Linked DNA regions of Homo sapiens: region 1 is linked to region 2. The links come from fine-mapping of genetic effects on gene expression. A gene starts in region 2. The other region holds a variant in brackets. All regions are shown on one strand. Distances are from middle to middle.

Evidence for each region. PIP is the estimated chance that this variant, and not a neighbour inherited with it, causes the effect.
Region 1: its variant is the best candidate, but not a certain one, in a credible set for the expression of CAV3 in nucleus accumbens (GTEx, PIP 0.57).

The regions. Positions count from the first base shown.
Region 1 is chr3:8,803,516-8,813,490 of GRCh38, reverse strand. It overlaps LOC107986061 (a long non-coding RNA gene), which reads left to right. Exons shown (of 2, transcript XR_001740592.2): 2 at 1-5,160. Among named protein-coding and RNA genes, the nearest start is that of OXTR, 39 kb to the right of the region's middle. The variant C/T (reference allele first, on the strand shown) is at 5,461.
Region 2 is chr3:8,727,897-8,737,611 of GRCh38, reverse strand. CAV3 (caveolin 3) reads right to left here and starts at 3,810. Exons shown (of 2, transcript NM_033337.3): 1 at 3,622-3,810. The coding sequence starts at 3,735.

The DNA.
Region 1 (9,975 bases), 76 kb before region 2:
CCCCCATCAGAGCCCACTGGTGTCTTCTTCAGGGTCTGGTCTCTGGTACTGAGATGATGATCACAATTATTAACAATGACATACTTGCTTTCAGTTTTTTTTTTTTTTTTTTTTTTTTTTGATGGAGTCTCGCTCTGTCGCCCAGGCTGGAGTGCAGTGGCCCGAACTCAGCTCACTGCAAGCTCCGCCTCCCAGGTTCACGCCATTCTCCTGCCTCAACCTCCTGAGTAGCTGGGACTACAGGAGCCCGCCACCACGCCTGGCTAATTTTTTGTATTTTTTAGTAGAGACAGGGTTTCACCATGTTAGCCAGGATGGTCGCGATCTCCTGACTTCGTGATCTGCCCGCCTCGGCCTCCCAAAGTGCTGGGATCACAGGCGTGAGCCACCTCACCAGGCCAACAATAACATACTTTCTTACCATCTTAGGAGGGTCTTTATACCTTCATATTTGCTCAATCTCCAAACCCATCTGATAAGTATGAAAAATGCTGTTTATAGCTGAAGAATCAGGCTCAGGATCAGGGATTTGTCTAAGACCCAGGCCCAGAACACAGGTCCTCTTGACTCTAAATCCCGCGATCCTCCCCATCCCTGTGCAGCTCTACCACAGGGTTGCAGGGCTCCGGGTTGCAAGGCCCAGTGCTGATGACACCTGGATGGCTTGCTGGAGACTCCAGGACCATGCTACAGGCTGTTGAGAACTGCTGGGCACCTGCCAGGTGGCTCTATCAGAAAGTGGGGAAGCCCCACAGAAAGGCAGGGAGGGGCCACAAACACAGACGACTTCCCACCTTTGTTTTGGACCAACTCTGGGCTATCTGACAGAGCAGAATGCTTTGCTGCAGCTGAGAACATGTTTCTCGGCCTTAAGAAATAAGCTCTTAAGCTTTCAGCTTTTAAAAATGTAAAGCAAGTAATGCATTCAACAGACATCACCCCATCACTGAGGTCTTCCCTGTCATCCGTCCCTAAGTCTCAAACCATCCATCTTTGAGCCTCCGTGGAGCCTGACCATTGCTTGCCCAAATCCGGAGCCTCAGCCTGGCACATACATAAACCCTTCCCTTACCCCTACCCAAAGATGAAGGCTCACTCTTCTTGTACCTTGCCCATTCTTCACCACAGACCTGATCTGTCCCTACCAAATCTTGAGCCTCATCCCAGCCTTGACACTAACTGCATCCCTTACCCAAATACTCACCTTCAGTCCATATCAGACCCCATCTCATCCCTCACCCCATACCCAAATCTACCACCATGCCTCACACCAACAATCCGTCCCTTACCCAAACCCCAAGACCTAACTGTACCCCCATTACACCTTAATTTCATTCTTGAGCCTCGGTGCTAGGGGTGAAGGGGGTTATTGCACACATCACCAGGAAATTTCAGAAATGCCCAAAGGTTAATCATTTCTTTTTGAGGCTCTCAAAATAAGTGTGGCTATCACTTTGTCCAAGAGTCAAAGTGGCTGCATTAAAACAACACTGCCCAAAACTGAGGCCAAGGTGTGAGAAGACACTGTGCAATCTCCCTCTGCAGTCCTGTTGTTCTCAGATCAGAAGGAGAGAGTTGTTTTGCGTTCAGTAAATTCAGTCACCATGTGAGTACTACGAATGGAGCCTGAGACAAGTGCAGTCATTATTTTGTGTAATGACATGGTGTTGGAGCCACCGCTGAGAAGGAAAATGCAGGCACAAACCATCCATCTTTTCAAGCAAATGAGAAAGGTTCATTTTTCAGATCTGCTACTGTTCCTTAGGAACTTGGTATTTTCTATCCTTCCAATTGCTCATTGGATTGTCTTCCCTATGCCTTTCTAAATGATTGACTTTCCAAAGTGCTTTGGCTCCCTGAAAAATGAAAGGGGTCTGGAAATATCAGGTGTGTTATAATTACCTCTGGCAGCACCATTGGGTAGGCCAGGCGACTCTCATCTCAACGTGTCTGCATTAACTCTAGCCATCTTTCTTTGGAAAAATGTCAGCATGATTAGCAATGGCTCCCACAATGAATTGGAGGGAAAAAAATCACCAGTCATTATATTTTTTTAAATGAATTTTTCTTTTTTTGTATCAGCCCCAAGTTAGAATTTTAATTTGCAGAAACTCCCAAGAAATTTCAGTCAGTGTTGTAGTTAGACCAAAGCTTGATTTAGGTTGGCACATTAAAACTCACTCCTGCTTTTAAAGTGCTGTACACTTTCCAGAATAATGATGCTATCCATCCCTCACAATATCCCTGTATGGAAGGCACTGTTACCTGCTTTTCACAGATGAGGGAATGGAGGCTCAGGGGCTTCAGTGACTTGTCCAGATAGGGGAGGGTTTCTGGTGCCCCATCTCCTGAGCACGGACCTGCACTCTTGCCAGCATGGTGCTGACTGCCCTGGGGAGGGCAGCTAAAGCCCACGAAGGCCTGGGTGACATGTCAGGTATGACTGCCCTGGAAGAGGCAGTGTAGATATCAGCCAGGACATGATGACAAACTTAGAAATTCAGTTCACTTTGCTATTACCAAATATCTAGAGGCTTCATGTGATGCCAACTGAATATCCAGATTTTTGACCCACTTGTTTTTTGTCTGGGTCATTGTTAATATGTGATCTTTTGTAACAGAAAGAGCCCCATGCTCGATCTCCATGATCTTGTTTAATTCTTGCAATAACACTTTGAGAGATAGATACAATTATCCTCATTTTACTAATAAGAAGTTAAATAACTTGCCTGAGATTGCACAACTTCGGGGCAGAGTCAAGATTTGAACCAAGATCTGGATTACTCTTACCCACTACAGTAAACCTATTCTCTGTAGGTCAGAAGAAAATGGAATTCTAGTTTGAGCTTTTTCTTTTTAGTTCTGTGTCCTCAGATGAGTTAACAAATTCATTGAATATTTATTGAGTATATGTTGTTTTTTTTTTTGTTTTGTTTTATTTTTGTTTTTTGTTTTGAAACAGGGTCTTACTCTGTTGCTCAGCTTGGAGTGCAATGGCGTGATCTCAGTTCACAGCAGTCTCCACCTCCTGGGTTCAAGCGATCTCATGTCTCAGCCTCCTGAGGGCTGGGACTAGAGGTGCAAGCCACCATTCCTGGCTAATTTTTGTATTTTTTGGTAGAGACAGGTTTCACTATGTTGGCCAGGCTGGTCTTGAACTCCTGACCTCAAATGAGTCCACCTCGGCCTCCCAAAGTACTGGGACTACAGGTGTGAGCCACCATGTCTGGCTGAGAATACATTTTTAAACAACTGATGAGCAAGCAACTCAGTTGCAATGACTGACAAACAAGTAAATTCCTTCATCTCATGGATGAGAATCCATCCATAAACAAGTGAGTTGGGCAAGTTTTTCTCAAAGGTTCTTTCTAGAGCTCATATAGTATGAGTCTGTGATGTTGACAGTTTAGATTTGCAACAGAGTCGTGCCCAAATCTCTCAGATGTGCATCTCGGTTTTCACAATGTCAAAGGTGATCTCTCCCACACTTCAGAGAGATTCCCTGAATTCAGCACCTGTGAGAAGTTATTTATCTCCTCTATGTACTATTTTTATACAGCTACCTGATTTAATCCCTAACACCAAAAACTCGAGCTGTGTTATTATCATCTTAAAAATGAGAAAATGGAGACTTGGTGATTATAGCCACTTGCACAATGTCATAGAACTAATACAAGACAAAGCTGGGTCTTGACGTTAGAAGAATCAACACAACAGCTGCTGCAACCTAGCATGCACTGTGGGAGTAGCTCAGGCCCCTGGAGAAGCTGGCTTAGCCTGAGAATGCATCAAGCTCATTCACCCAAGCTTCTAGAAGCACCATTCAGAGACGTTTGGTGGGGTCACAGGTCACCTGCCTCCCCACAGACCATCTGACATTTGTCACACTAGATCTTTTTTATTCTCCTTGCGACCTTGTCTGTGAGTCAGCCCTTGTCATATGGTAAGACAGACTAGCAAGAAATGGAGCTGTCCAGGTGATCTTTTAGAACCTCTGAGATTCCTGCTGCATGACACAAGGATACTCAGTCTCCCTGAAGCCCACCTGTCTCGGGCTAAGAAATGAATGCAGCCTTCAGGAAACAAATGTCCCCACTACTTGAATGATGTCACTTGTATTTCCTGAAGTGTGACAGCCTCTCGCTCCTGACAGGTGGTCATTATGCCTCATCCTGGGCTACATCACTGTCCTTGTAAAGAAATGAGGTTGAAGCAAGTTTCTTCATTTCCACAGCTAAAGAGCTTCTGGATAATATCTCTGCCATGACTAAAACCATGCAGGGGAACAAAATAAGAGTTGATTTATCAAACATTCAGTAACTGAAAAAACAGAGTTGGAGAATCTATCAAATGACTACGTGGTAACCAATTCTAGCTAGTAGTTTAAGGTGGCTTTGTTTTCTGTTTGTAGCTAGAGGCCCAGAGGGAGGACCCTGAGCTCAGGAAGTGAGGATGCTGGTAACATAGCATCACACAGAAAAGAATGGAAAGGCCAGGCATTATTATTACGGCTGACCCCTTTCATTCTTTCTTTTACTTTCCAACTTCTTTCTGCCTGACTTCCCCAGGAAAGTCTTCCCATTTTCCTTCACTGTGAATCAAGAAGCAATTGTAATCATGGTCAGCACATACTATAATCATCAGGGTACAGACACTTATCAAGACAAGGGACGTGGCCATTTCACTTTGAAATCAAAGTGAAATCAGGTAATTCCTGAAAGTTCCCAGACTTTCCTCTTAGAAATATTGCCAAAAAAACTTCCTACTCATCCTGCTTTAATTACACACAACACAGTTCTTCATCAAGTGTCAATATTCATAAGTAGAAAATGAAGTCTTTTTCAACATTATTATGTTTCCAATGGATTTAGTTTCTACTGTGGTAAGAGCATTACTTTGCAAACATATTTGAACAAAATCCTATAGTATTTTGATGACCTTCTTCCTTCTAGCTTTTGTGGGCTAGCCTGGGCATCTGATGGACATTTAGGACATTACTTCCTGTGGACACTGGGTTCTGCATTCAACCAGCCAATTTACAAATGATTCTTTGGAATATAGCTTATCTGCTGTTGTGTGTAGAAAAATAAAATTGTCATCTCAGTTTCTCGATGTGGAAATTAAGAAATAAAATCTGGAGTGTTGGAGCTCTTGTACCAATGCAGTGGCAGCTATTCCTTTTCCCTTCTTTCTCTGAACACCAACAGGGAGAAGCCACCTGCCCATCTTTGCTGGTCTTCTCGGCCAGTTCTTGTGTCTTCACTGAGAAGGAGCTGTGACTGGAGGCAGAGGCCAGGCCCATTCACTGTTTTTAAATGGAAATATAACTTACATACAGCAAATCATATACAACTGAAATGTACAGCTCAATGAAATTTTGCAAATTTATACAGCTATGTAACACAATCTACATCAAAATGTAGAATAACACAGCATGGCAGCAGGTTTCCTCCTCAATCC[C/T]GTGCCAGTCAATACCCTCCGCCCCAGTGGTAGCCCGCTATTCTGACTTCTTTTAACATAGATTAGTTTTTGGTCCACTTACTTAGAAAACTTTCTTAGGTTGAGGTATAATTGAGAAACAGTAAATTGTACAGATCTTAACTGTTAACTTTAATGAGTTGTGACAACATATACCTGTGTAACCAGTGCCCAGAACAAAATGTAGAACATCTCCATCACCATTGGCAATTCCCAATGCTCCTTCCAATAAATCCTCATCCCTTTTTGTTTTGACAGGGTCTCACTCTGTCACCCAGGCTGGAGTGCAGTGGCATGATCTTGGCTCACTGCAACCTCCACTTCCTGGGTTCAAGTGATTCTTGTGCCTTAGCCTCCTGAGTAGCTGGGATTATAGGCACCCACCACCACACCTGGGTCTTTTTTTTTTTTTTTTTTTGTATTTTTTGTTTTCTTCGTAGAGATGGGGTTTCACTATGTTGGCCAGGCTGGTCTCGAACTCCTGACCTCAAATGATCCACCCACCTCGGGCCTCCCAAAGTGCTGGGATTACAGGCGTGAGCTCTTCCTTTCCTTAGCAACTACTTCCTGATTTCAAACACTGTATAGTAGTTGGGCTTGTTCTCCGATTTCACATAAATAGAATCATCCAGCATGTGCTCTTTAGGGTCTGGCTTCATTCACTTGACATATAGACATATACGTATTTTTAGCTTCACCTACAGTGTTGCATGTATCAGTAGTTAATTCTTTTTTCCCACTAAGGAAAGTTTTTTTGGCTCCATTTCTTAGATTCAGAAGCTAACACCACAATAACAAAAATGTCAAATACATATAATTTGACCCCAATTGTTTAAAAAAAGCTCAAATATACACTTATACCACTGAGACAGGAAAAGATAAATACTGTGTACTAAAAAGTGCTCCTGGTAAACTCTAGACAGTGAGAGATTATGGATGATTGCTCTTCTTCTTTTTATTTTCTGAGTATTTCAGTTTCTACATTAGCATTTTTTTGCATTTTTAATTGTGGTAAAATACACATTTCAAGGATGTAATGTATAGTGCCTATTTCCGGACTTGCTAGTCTTTTCTATTGATTTATTTACCTATCCTTACACCAACATCACCCTATCTTGATTATTGAAGTTTTATAATGAGTCTTAAAATCAGGTAGTCAAAAGGCTTCCAAATTTGTTCTTCATTTTCAAAATTGTTTTGGCTATTTTAGATGACTTGCATGTCCACATACATTTTAGAACTAGTTTATCTATTTCTTCAAAAGAGATTGCTTATATGTGATATGGATTATGTTAAATCTATACATTAATTTAGGGAGGATGGAAATCTTAAACAATATTGAGTTTCCAATTTACGGACGTGCTATATCTCTCCACTTAGGAATATTTTAATTTTGCAAAGCAATATTTTATAATTTTCAGTTTATAGATCTCACATACCTTTCATTAGATTTATTCCTGGGTATTTTATTTTGGCTAGTGTTTTGATGCTATTGTCAGTGGTATTTGTTTTGTAATATAATTTTCCAATTCTTACTAGAATATTGAAATGTAATTTATTTTTGTACATTGATGTTACATCCTGAAACCTTGCTAAATTCACTTATTCTAGTAATTGTTTAATAGACTCTATATGATTTCTAAAACAGCTTGATTGAGACATAATTGACATACCATTTAATTCACCCATTTAAAGTGTGTTCTTATTATATTCCCAGAGCTGTGTGACTATCTCCACAATCCAGTTTTAGAACATTCTCATCACCCCCACAAGAAACCCTGTGTGATGAGGAGCAGTTAGGTCTCATCCTCCTCTCATCTCCACCTCACAGCCCTAGACAATCACCAATCTACTCTTTGTCTCTATGGATTTCTCTCTTCTGAACATTTCATATAAGAGCAATGATACAACATGTAGTCTTTTGGGGCATAATGTTTTCAAGGTTCCTACATGTTGTAGCATGTATCATTCATTTTTATGGCAGAATAACATTCCGTTGTATAGATGGAACAGATTTTATTTATGTATACATCAGTTGATGAGGATTTGGGTTGTTTCCACATTTTGGGTATTATGAATACTGTTGAATGAACATGCGTGTGCAAGTTTTTCTGTGGACATGTTTTTGCTTGCCTCATTTTTATCCTTTGAGGAACTGCCAGACTATTTTTCAAAGCAGCCATACTGTTTTGCATTCTCATTAGCAGTGTATGAGGTTCCAAATTTCTCCACATTCTTGCCAACACTTGTTATTATCTGTCTTTTTTTACTATATTATCTGTCTTTTTTTACTTTTTTTACTATATTATCTGTCTTTTTTTTACTACTTTTTTACCAGTAGAACCACCAGTTCTACTGGTGGGTGTGAAGAGGCTTTCACTGTGCTTTTGAATTACATTTCCTTGGTAGGTAATGACATTGAGAATCCTCTCATGTACTTTTTGGTCATTTGTATATTTTTTGTAGAAATGTCTACTCATATGTTTTGCTCATTTTTAAACTAGGTTATTTGCCTACTTATTATTGAGTTGTAAAAATTTTATTTTTTAAGAAGTATTCTGAAAGTTTCTTATCAGATATATGACTTGCAAATATAGTCTGTGGGTTGCCTTTTTACTTTCTTGATGACGCTCTTTGAAGCACAAAACTTTTAAATTTTGATGAAGTTCAATTTATCTATTTTTCTTGTTTGTGCTTTTGGTGTCATGCCTCAGAACCAGAGTTTTATACATATACAATCTTGTTGTCTATGAATAAGGCAGTTTTACTTATTTTCCCAATACTTATACCTCTTATTTATTTTTCTTGCTCACTTTCACTGGCTAGGACCTCTACTACAATGTAGAATAAAATCAATCAGAGCATATTCTTGCCTTATTACCAATCTTAGGGGAAAATACTTCAATATTTTATTATTAAGTCTGATGCTAGCTGTGTGTCCTCTATCATATTGAGGAAGTTCCCTTCTAGTCTGGCTTGCTGAATTTTCTTTTCTTTTCTTTTTAAATAGACTTTATCTTTTTAAAGATCAGTTTTAGTTTCACAGCAAAATTAAGAGAAATTTACACAATTTCCCATATGTTCTTGCCTTGACACATTCATAGTCGCCCGCATTTTCAACATCCCCCACCAGAGTGGTGCATTTGCTACAACTGATGACTCTATATTGACACATCATGATCATATCCAAAGACTATAGTTGGCATTAGGAATCACTCTTGGAGTTGTACATTTTATGGATTTGTATAAATGAATAATAACATGTGTCCACTATTACAGTATCATTGAGGGTAGTTTTTCTGCCCTAAATCGTCTATGATCTACCTGTTTGTCCCTTCCTCCCTCTAACCTCTGGCAACTACTGATCTTTTTACTGTCTCCATAGTCTTGACGTTTCCAGAATGTCATATTCGAATCTTACAGAATGTAGCTTGGAGCTTCATTCATGTGGTAATATGCATCTACGTTTCCTATATGTTTTTTTTATTCCTTTTTAGTGCTAAATAATATTTCACTATCTGGATATATCACATTTTATTTACCTATTCACTTACTGAAGAATATCTTGGTTGCTTTCAAGTTTTTGCAGTAATGAATAAGGTGCTATAAACACCTATGTGCAGGTTTTTGTGAGGACATCTTTTCAACTTCTTAAAGTAAATACTATGGAGCATGATTGCTGGATCATATGGTTAGAGTATGTTTAGTTTTGTAAGAAACTGCCAAACTGTCTTACAAAGTAGTTGTACCATTTTGCTTTCCCACCAGCAATGGATGAGACTTTCTTTTGCTCCACATCCTCACCAGCATTTGGTGTTTTCAGTGTTTTGGATTTTGGCCATTCTAATAGGTGTGTAATGACATGTCATTATTTTAATTTGCATTATTTTGATTTGCATTTAATTTGCATCGATGATATATGATGTTGAGCATCTTTTCAAATGCTTATTTGCCATCTGTATATCTTCTTTGGTGAAGTGTCTGCTAAGATCTTTGGCCCATTTTTTAATTGAGTTGTTTGTTTTTTTATTGTTCACTTTTAAGAGTTCTTTGTGTATTCTGGACAACAGTCCTTTATCAGTTATGTCTTTTGCAAATATTTTCTCTCAGTCTGTGGATTGCCTTTTTGTTCTCTTGATAGTGTCTTTTGCAGAGCAGAAATATTAAATTTTAATAAAGTCTAGGTTATCAATTATTTCTTTCATGGATTATACTTTTGGTGTCATATATAAAAAGTCATTGCCAAACCCAGGATCAACTAGATTATCTCCTATGTTATCTTCTGGGGTTTTATAGTTTTGCATTTACATATTTGGAGTTAATTTTTGTGAAGGATATAAGGTCTGCATTTAGATTCTTTTTTTTTTTTTTTTTTTTTTGCTTGTGGATGTCCAGTTGTTCCAGCACCATTTGTTGAACAACTATCTTTTCTCCATTCTCTTGCCTTTTCTCTTTTGTCAAAGATTAGTTGGCTATATTTATGTGGGCCTATTTCTG
Region 2 (9,715 bases):
AGCTACAATCTCCATGACCTTCTACACTGCCCTGGGCCCAGTCCCGAGCCTTGGAGACCACAGCTGAAGTCTGTTGGAGTATACAGGGCTCTTCCTCTGTTCTTGGCTGCCTGGGTTTAAAGGCAGGGCCAAAAAGGGGTGCCTCCCCTCTACTGGGGGTCAAATCCATGGATGTAGTATGCCTATCTCCTACTCTTCATCCTTGGCTTTTTTAAATGTGAAACGGCCGTGACTGGTGGCACCAGGGACTTGGGACCAGAGAGGGCAAAGGATTTCCTCAGAGTCACACAGCAAGTTACTGTCAGGTCTTGGACCAGAACTTGAGTCTGTAGCCAGGTCCTATTCCAGCATTCTTTCCGTGTCACTCATCCTAGCCCATGAGAAACCTGCTACCACCTGTGAGGCCACCCTGCCACCTGCCACCTGGGGCACTGCCAGGGCCTCCTGCACCTTCCTCTCAGTCTCTGTCCAGTTTCTCCATCTCTCTCTGTCTCCCTCATTCCCTTTTCCTTCCCATCTCTCTTTTCCTCCATCGATGGCAAAACCCGGGCAGTTGAGAGGCTGAACAGTCTGGCTTCATCCCTCCTAGCCACAGTCCCCTCTCTCCTTCTTTCTTTTCTTTATTCTTTAACAGACTGTAACAGAGACCTGAAATCTACCTAAACCTGTTTGTGATCTATATCTGAGTCTGCTTTATGATCCTTGTTCTGCATTAACTTTTTTCATTTCTCACTCACTAAAAATAAAAGAAAGAAAAAGTCAAACAAATCCCTAAAGCAGAGAATGTCCAAAACATACCAAATAACCACCTCCTCTGGACAAAATTATTTGCGGCATCCTTTCTTAGCCTTTGCTATTTTTGCTAGGGCTCAGGGCCTCCAGGAGAGGACAGCTCTCAGCCCCAGGAGGGCTGCGTAAAGCCGCTGCACCTGTGCCGCCGCCCCCGCCGCTCCCTCTGCGTCATAATCCAGGCCTGCGGCTTGGAGCTGGCTCCCTCCTGGCTCAGAGGGATCCAAGGGCTCCCTCTGTACTTACCAGCCATTGTGGGTGCCCTTTAGAAACCATGTTCTCCCGTGGGATCCTCTTTCCCATCTCCCTGCAGCCCACCTGGGTGTACCAGATGGCTACCTGGGCATGACGCAGGCTCCTGGCTTAGCTCTCTTGCCCTCTAGACTGCAAGCTCTTTGAGACCCTTCTTTGACTCACACTGTCTCATCCTTGCTGGGTGCCAGGGACTGTGATAGACACTTTCAAACCCTTCATCTCATTCAATCCTCATGCTATATTTCTAACGCACAGTGCTGCTTTGAGATTCGTTTACCTGGTGGAGGTAAATTGGGAAATGATATTATTCCCACTTTACAGGGGAAACTGAGTCTCAGAAAACCTAGTTGGTTTGTCCAGTGTTATCATTTTTAGGTAAAATGGACTGGATTTGAAATCAAGTCTATTAAAGTCAAGTCCAGGACTATTCCTGCTAGATGACACTGATGGAAACCATAACTAATAATATTTTACAGGTACAATTTTATTTACATGTATATAGTGCTTTACAGTTTGTGAAATTTGTTTCCTAATTTTCCTCATTTCAGCTTTCACACTGTGCTATACTGTATACTCTATCTCCATCACTAACGATGTATAGAAATATAATATCCAGTATAAGAAGAGCTGTGGTGGAGGAATGCCCTGAGTGAAGCAGGGGGACAGAAGTGGGAGCAACTAATTGCCTGGAGGAGTCAGGGAAGGCTTTCTGGAGGAGGTTGCATTTGAGTTGGGCCTTGAAGGCTGAGTGAGGCATTCACCACCTGGAGAAGAGAGGACAGGCACTTCTGGCAATGGCACAGGAATGTACTCTGGTGGGTGGGCTGGCAGGTGGGAGCCAACCAGGCAGAAGAAGCAGGTTGGGGCCAGATTGTGTTGGGTTTGGACAGCCACGTGGAGAGGCTAGGCTTCTCCAGCATGGGAGGTGCCCCACTGAAAGACCGCAATACAGGCCTGTCTGATCCAGTGGCCAGGAGCTTTGAGCGCTTGAAATGTGGCTAGTGAAACTGAAGAATTCTAGATTTTGTTTAACTTTAATTAAAATGTAAACCCCGATTTCATTATTGAAAAATTTTTGCAGAATGTTTGAAACAGTACAGGCATGCGAATCGATTTTCACATGTACATTTTATGAAATCTAAATGCAGAACAAGCATTTCGGATGAAAATGTGGGGTCTGAACTGAAATATACTGTGGGTATAGGAAGCACACTGGATTTCAAACTTGAAGACTGTACAATAGCTCATTGATAATTGTTTTATATTGCTTACATGTTGAAATAATACTATTTTAGATATATAGGGTTAAGTAAGAAATATCAGGAACATTAATTTCACCTGTTTGCTTTCGCATTTTAAAATGTGGCTGCTAGAAAATTTTAAATTCCTTGTGGTAACAGTATCCCTATTGGACAGCACTGGCCTGAGATTCCAATGCTTTCAGTAGGATCTGAGAGGCCTCAGACACTGGCCTCTTAACAGCCCCTCCAGTGACTCAGATGCTGGTGGCTGGGGACCCTTCTTGGAGGAATTCTGCTTTAGAAAGGTACCTCTGAGCCAGTTGTGGAGTCTTGCACCTGTAATCCCAGCACTTTGGGAGGCAGGAGGATCACTTGAGCCCAAGAGTTTGATACCAGCTTGGTCAACATAATGAAACCCAGTCTCTACTAAAAATACAAAAATTAGCTGGGCATGGTGGCACTCGCCTGTGGTCCCAGCTAATCAGGAGGTGGAGGAGGGAGAATCACTTGAGCCTGGGAGGTTGAGGCTGCAGTGAGGCGTGAGTGTGCGACTGCACTCCAGCCTTGGGGACAGAGAGAGACTGTCTCAAAAAGAAAAAAGAAAGATCCCTCTGGGTACTGGCTGGAAGTTGGATTGAAGGTGTGGGCCTGGAGGCAGCAGGGCCGCTAGTGTCACCAGGAGGCGAGGGAAGAGGCCCAACTTCAGACGCTGAGAGACTCCCTGAGGGCTAGACAACCCCGAGCTTTCTCTTCGAGGGTCCCGGGTGCCGTCTGCCCTGTCCTGGCCACTAGACCTGGGGTGAGGGGGTAGCTAGGGGAGGGCTGGGCATGGCCCTCGGCCTTGGGGACAGATATTGGGCAGTGCTCTGGGGGAGTGAGTGTACCTCGAGGGGCTGCCGGCCCTGCTGGAAGCTGCCCTCTGGGGATTAACCCTGCACCCACTGGAGAGACCGCAGAAATGCCCCTTGGCACAGAAAGGAGCCCAACTTGGCCGCCCGTTCCTGTTCCTCCCAGGGTGAGAGCCAGGAGTGAGTGGCAGGAGCGTCACAGTAGTAAGGAGGGATTTTCTTTGTGACTCGCTCCTCCTGCCCTGATTAGCACTTAGGTCATGGAGATGAGGCTAATTTTTTGCTCTTGATTTTGCTAAAGATCCTTCGGTGATTTAGAAGCCTTTTTTTGGGGGTGGGGTGGGGTTGGGGGGGTGATACAGAGACAACAGAGCAACAAGTCTCTTTTCAGGGAAACTGTGTCTGCAGCAGATACCCTCCCCTGCCAAGCGCCCACGTCTCGCAAACCTGACACTCTCCGCCCGCCGAGGCAGGCCTGCAGAGCCTACCTTGACTATGTCCTCGTTAATGTTCTTGGGGTCTCGGTTCACCAGGTCAATCTCCTTGCAGTGGATATCCTTGACGATCTGGGCCTCGAGATCTGTGTGCTCTTCTGCCATCATCGCAGAGCTGGGGGGATCCACAGGAGGAGATCCGAGCTGTGTGGCCGGCTGGGGCTGAAAATACTTGGGGCAGAGAGACCAATTCAGTGTCCCCAGACTTATGTCCCTGCCAGCTAAATAGGCCCCACCCAGCATGCCGGCTGACAGCTGTCCCACATAACTTCAGCCTGCCTCTCTCTAAAGCCTCCTGTGGCAGGCCTCCAAGCTAAAATTAAGACTGGAGCTCTTCTGGAAGGCCGATCGCTCCTTAAAGGGGGCTGCCTCAGGGCACTGGGCCTCAGGAGAGGGTGCAGAGGGCCTAGCGTTTCCTATGCATCGTGTGGCTGTGGCCAACTCGGCGGTCGCTCCGGGGCCCCTGGAATTTGCCCCACTGCTGTCAGCATTTTGGCTCCTTTGGGGTGCACTGCCCGTGGAGGGAAGTGGGGTTAGTCCCTCCTCTGCCTCTGGCTGGCTGTGTGACCTTTGGCACACTTCACCTCTCTAGGCCACTCTGTCCCCATCTGTAAAATGGAGAGATGATAATAACAATCAGGGCTCTCCTACCCAGGGAATGGCTTCAGGAGCTGGAATGCGATGTAGTGGGGCTTCTCGTTGGATTGCCAGTGCCTGGCCCTGCTGCTTGGTGACCTGGAGCAGGTCCGAGCTTTGTGGGTTTCTGAGGTTTCCACCTGGAGCAGGAGTTGATGGACTGTGGTGTGGGGCCAGGCTGGGGATGAAACAGGGAGAGGAAGCTGCTGTGGGGCTGCCCCTCGTCTGCCGTCTGGAGCCTGCACTGGGATATGCCCGGTGGGGGGAACATGAAGTCCATGTTCGTGCTACCCTTCACCCTGCCCTAGTGACAGCTTCCAGGATTTTCTTGGGTCCCAGACACTCCACATGCATCAGTGGGGTGCACCTCTCTTAGATACCTGCTCGGTTTTTCTGTGCCCTCTTCTAACTCAGCCTTCCCCTGGGCTCCAGCAGCATGAAGGATGGCAACTCTGAATCCTCAGGGGTCAGGGTCTGTGCTTCCATTTACCTGTCTATTCACTCCTTCATTCAGGATTTGCTAATAGCTGGGGATAAACAGACCAACAAGGCTCTGTCCGCCTTGAAGTGCTCCCAGTCAAGGTGGGGAGACTAATTAAAACAATAAGTGATTATAATACTGTGCGGTAAGTGCCACAGATCAGAGATATTTTACAAAGAGCTGGTCTTAGAAGTCCATAGGAGTCAGTAACTTACTCTGAGGACACCGGGGAAGACTTCCTGTGGGAGGTGGCTTTGCAGATAGGTATCGAATGACAAGCAGGAGCTCAGCACCTAGAACACTTCAAGTTACAGGATTGTGGATATTGAGGAGTGGTATAGACAGGAATGTTGAAAAGTGTGGAGTGGCTGGAGCACAGGGTGTCTGGGGTTGAGGCAGGAGATACAGCTCAGCTCAGGCCTGGGTGTGCAGCATCCCAAATGTCATACTAAAGAATGTGGATTTTGTCTAGGGGTGCTGGAAAGCCATTGAAGGCTTCAAAGCAGGACAGGGTCGGTATCAGATTTGTGTGTGAGGAAGCTCCCTGGTGGCCAGGTGGAGGGTGGATTGGAGCTGGGTGAAGTTTGAGGTAGGAGGGGGAAAACCAGAGGTGATTTAGGCTTTATCAATAATTACACCTGGCTAGTAACACAAAGGATGCAAAAGTAATAGTGACTTGAATAAGGTAGGAACTTTTTTTCTCACTTAACACAAGTAGTTCAGAAATATTATAGTGGCTCCATGATGTCTTCAGACATCTGGACTCCCATCCTTCTGTTCTGCTAGCCCGAAAGCCACCTCATAGGCACAAGATGTCTACTGCTCCTCCAATCATCATCTCTGAGTCTGGATAAGAAGAAAGAGGAAGGGGCAGGGACAAGAAACGACATCTGCGAACTGAGTCGGCTCTGTTATAAAGCTTTGTTAGAAGTCCAACCCAACTACTTCTGTTTATATCTCATTGGTCACTCCTGTCTTGGCAAACGATGATGGAACTGTAGGTTTTTTAGCTTGAGCACATTTTCGGCACCCCCACAGTGTTACTAGGGATAAATGGTGGGCAACCAGAAAACTGTCCCTAAGTCGCTTAGGATTAAGAGGTAACTTTTTTTGTTGCTTTTCCATTCCCTTGCCTGGGTCCCCAGGTCCCCCTGGTCCCAGGTACATGAATATTCTGCAAAGAGATTGTAACAAAAAAAAAGAACATTGCTGCTTGTATTCACAAGGGACGTGGCAGGGATCTAAGCCTGAGCTTAAGCTTTGTGCACCGTAGAACCAGATATGTCTGGTGAAAGGTGGGCCAGCTAATGGCAGTCTTGTCGCCAGGGATGGAAGAGCCACCTAGAAGAACTCATCATCCTAAAGGGGAAGTAATAATAACGACATAGTAATAATGATTATGGAAGGCCATCTTTTCCAAAGATGATGAGATTGACACTCCTTCCACCAAGAGGGAGGGTCTGTGTTCCCTCCCTGGCTGGCTTCCTGGCTCTCTCCTCTCAGGATTCTTGCTCTTGGACCTCAGTCACCACGCTGGGAGGAAGTCCACACCAGCCTATGTGGGAAAACCACATAGAGAGGAGCTGAGGCTCCAGCTGTCAACCAACATCAGCATCAGGCATGAGGGTGAACAAAGTTTTGGATGTTCCCAGTCGCCAGTCTTCAAGTCATCCCCAACCTTCCTGTCTTCCAGCTGAAGCCTCAGACACCATGAAACAGAGAAACTGTCTTCTCTGTGTCCTGTTTGAATATCTAAACCACACAGTTCATGATCATAATCATTTTTTTATGTCACTGGAATTTGGGGGAGCTTGTTTCACAACCATAGTCACTGGATCAATGAGCGCTAATGGCAATAGCAACTACTGTTTGTTGAGAATCATTATGTGCTTGGCTTCCTTCCTAGGCATCCTTGGTGTGTGTAAGGAGGCTCATTTGTTATCTGAAAGGGTCAGTGCCCCTAGCTGGTGATCGGTGCTGAGGGCCAAGGGAGTGGAGCAACTAACACACATTGTGGATTTCACAGGAAGGAAGTGTACTTCAGCTGGGCCAGAAGGATGAGTGGACTCAGAGAGGCAGAGAGGAAAGGGCCAGATGCCAGAGGCAGAGAAAGGGTCATCTCTCACTTTCTTATGACAATTGTATTTCTAAAAACCTCACTGGTGAAAAGAGCACTGAAGCCGGGAACCATTAGTTGTTTCTTGGCCCTATCGTGAAGCAACTCTGAGCCCCCTCTCTGAGGCCTGGGGTCCTTGTCAAGTTTGGATGGTAAAACCTGCCTGTATTCCCCACGCATGAGTCTGTGCCCCCGCACTCAGTGGGAAAACCTAATGGGGCACCAGAGGGGCTGTGTACTCACAGAAAAAATGTTACGAAGAGAACGTACTGACAGATGAAACTTTCAAGTCAACCCTGGGGTGATGCAGCTAACAAGAGAAAGCAATTAAGGAGAGAGAGTGGCTTTCCGGAGCCCATTTTGTATCTGGGGTTTTATAGAGGACACAGCGTTCTTATTTCAAAGGATTTTTGTCGTTGTTGTTGTTATTTGGCTTGCCAGGGAAAAGAGAGAGAAAAGAATTTTGAAAATGGGATGTGCAGGAAGACACATTTGTGGAGGGTCCAAAGGGGAAGTAATGGGAAAGGGAAAGATTTACATGAGCTGAGTCACTAAGAAAGTAATGGTACCATGGACTGAAAACTCAGTGAGCTAACAAGTCTAGGGCTACTGTTAACAAGCAAGATTGATCACTCATGCAAATGTTTCCAAGGCTAGTAACTCTAGAATGATCAGCAGGAAAGGAAGCTTTTTTTTGTTTTTCCTACAAGTTTTAGATCTGGATTGAGAGCTTCTGTTTTCTTCATGACTTGGCTTTTGGGGTCTGCATTTAGAAAACAAATCACAGTATGCTCGAGCTCGAAGAGACCCAGCTTTTCCATTTTACAGATGTAGAAACCGAGGGCCCAAAAATCTCAGTTGGTGGACTGGAGAGCTTGGGATTTGGAGACAGAACTGCTATATGTCCATGAGCAGGCCACTCCCTCCCAAACTTTGGTTTACTCACCTATATAATGAGCATAACGGACCATCTTTTCCTACCATGAGGGATCTGGGAGATTTTTGGAATGGGTTCCAAAATAGACAGAGTGATCTTAGGATGCATCAATAGAGATGAACACTCTAGAATAATGGAGGTGACTGTCCTACTCAACTGTGCACTGGTCAGACTACGCTTGGAGGTCTAGTGGGGCTCCATGCTTGAAGAGGGGTGTTGGGAAACTAGATCATCTCTATAGAGGAAGGAAGCTCCTTTAAGAAAGAGCTTGAAACATGTCTTGTGAGAAACAGACAATTTTGGGTTCTAAAGAGAAGACTCAGAGAGAGGGACGGAAGAACTTTCCTCAAATCTCTGAAGGCATAAGGGATGAGATTTATTCTGGGAGGTCCCAAGGACTGGTGAGTAAGTGGCAGACTTTCGCTTGACTCAACCCAGGGCCTGGGTCATCGTTGGCCCCACTGATAATGATAGCTGATATAGTTCTCGGTAAGGGTACCAGGAAGGACTGCCTCAAAGTTTCCCAGAGATATAATAGACTGCTTCCGAAAGGGGCTGGCTTCCTGGGTCCAGAAACATTAAGGTAGAAGAGTGAAAGGGAACCAAGAGCTAAAAAAGGAGAAGAACAGGGCAAACTGTAGGACCATATAGTAAATCTTTCAGGCAGGACTGGCTATATAAGTTGAGGGGTCCAGAGAAAAACAAAAATTCAGCTCTTGTTTAAAAATGATTAAAAATTTCAACATGGTGAAATCAAGCTGTGGCATCTCCCAAGCATGGGGCCCTATGGGTTGCACTGCCCTGGTTTCAGATTTCGTGGGCCATGTGGTCTCTGTCGCGACTACTCACCTCTGCCCTTGTAGCTCAAAAGCTGCTGTAGAAAATGCGTAAATGAAGGGGCTATGGTTGTGTCTCAGTAAAACTTTATTTACAAAAATAAGTGGCAGCCAGATTGTAAAAACACGATTTTGGCTCATGGGCTGTATGCAGTTTGCAGACCCTGTGTAGAGTCCTGGGTCATCAGAGCCGTCTTGGGCTGGTGCTGTCCCGAGCCATGTCTGGACGGCCTCGGTTTCACGTTCGAGCCAGTACAGACTCGCTCTCCTTACCTACTTCTCCCACCTGGGGGAAAATAGCTCTGAGTTGAGTCCCATATCTAACTGGGATTCCTTCCACCCGACTTGATTATCCATCAGACAATGAGAATGAGTAAGTGAACCCCAAGTTGCCATACTCCCCTCCAAGAGCAGATGCCAGGACAGGGGAGACTGGCCCTTGCCATACTCAGGTAGAACCTGCTTTGCTTCCCAGGTGAAAGAAAAGAGATGGAAAATTTTCCAGCCTTCAGGACCAACAGTGAAAACTCCCTGTTCAGAGACCATGCTGGAGCAGGCTCTGGGGAAGGGGCGTGTATTCTTGTGGGTGGGAACAGCGTTTGCTGTTTACTTTCAGCAAGGCCCAGGGTGGGCCTCAGTCTCTGAGAATATCAGGTGCTTTGGCATTCAGAACGTCTTCATGAATTCACAGAGTCCTGACACTTGGGCGGGGCTCTCTGGGCTGGGGTTTCTGCATGTCTCTTTGAGCTCTGTGATGTATACCCCAGACCAAATGGATGTTCCAGAGACTGGGTGCCCTGAAGATGAGCCCTTGGTTCTGTCTGCAACCTCATTCTGCAGAATTCTTGAGGGGTGAGGATGAGAGATAAGTCATCATTTCTCCTTGTCTCTGTCTACTTAGCCTCCCAGAGGATCTTGGTTTGAGTCAAAAAGAGCTGGCTTCAATTTCATCTGGCCTAAGCCTCAGATGTGAGCCACACACGCTGCCCTAGAGATTCAGAGCACGCCCCACCTCATACACCACACTGCCTTTTTTGAAAACAGGTTGAACTCAACTCTTCTGCATTGAGGGAAGCTTTCCA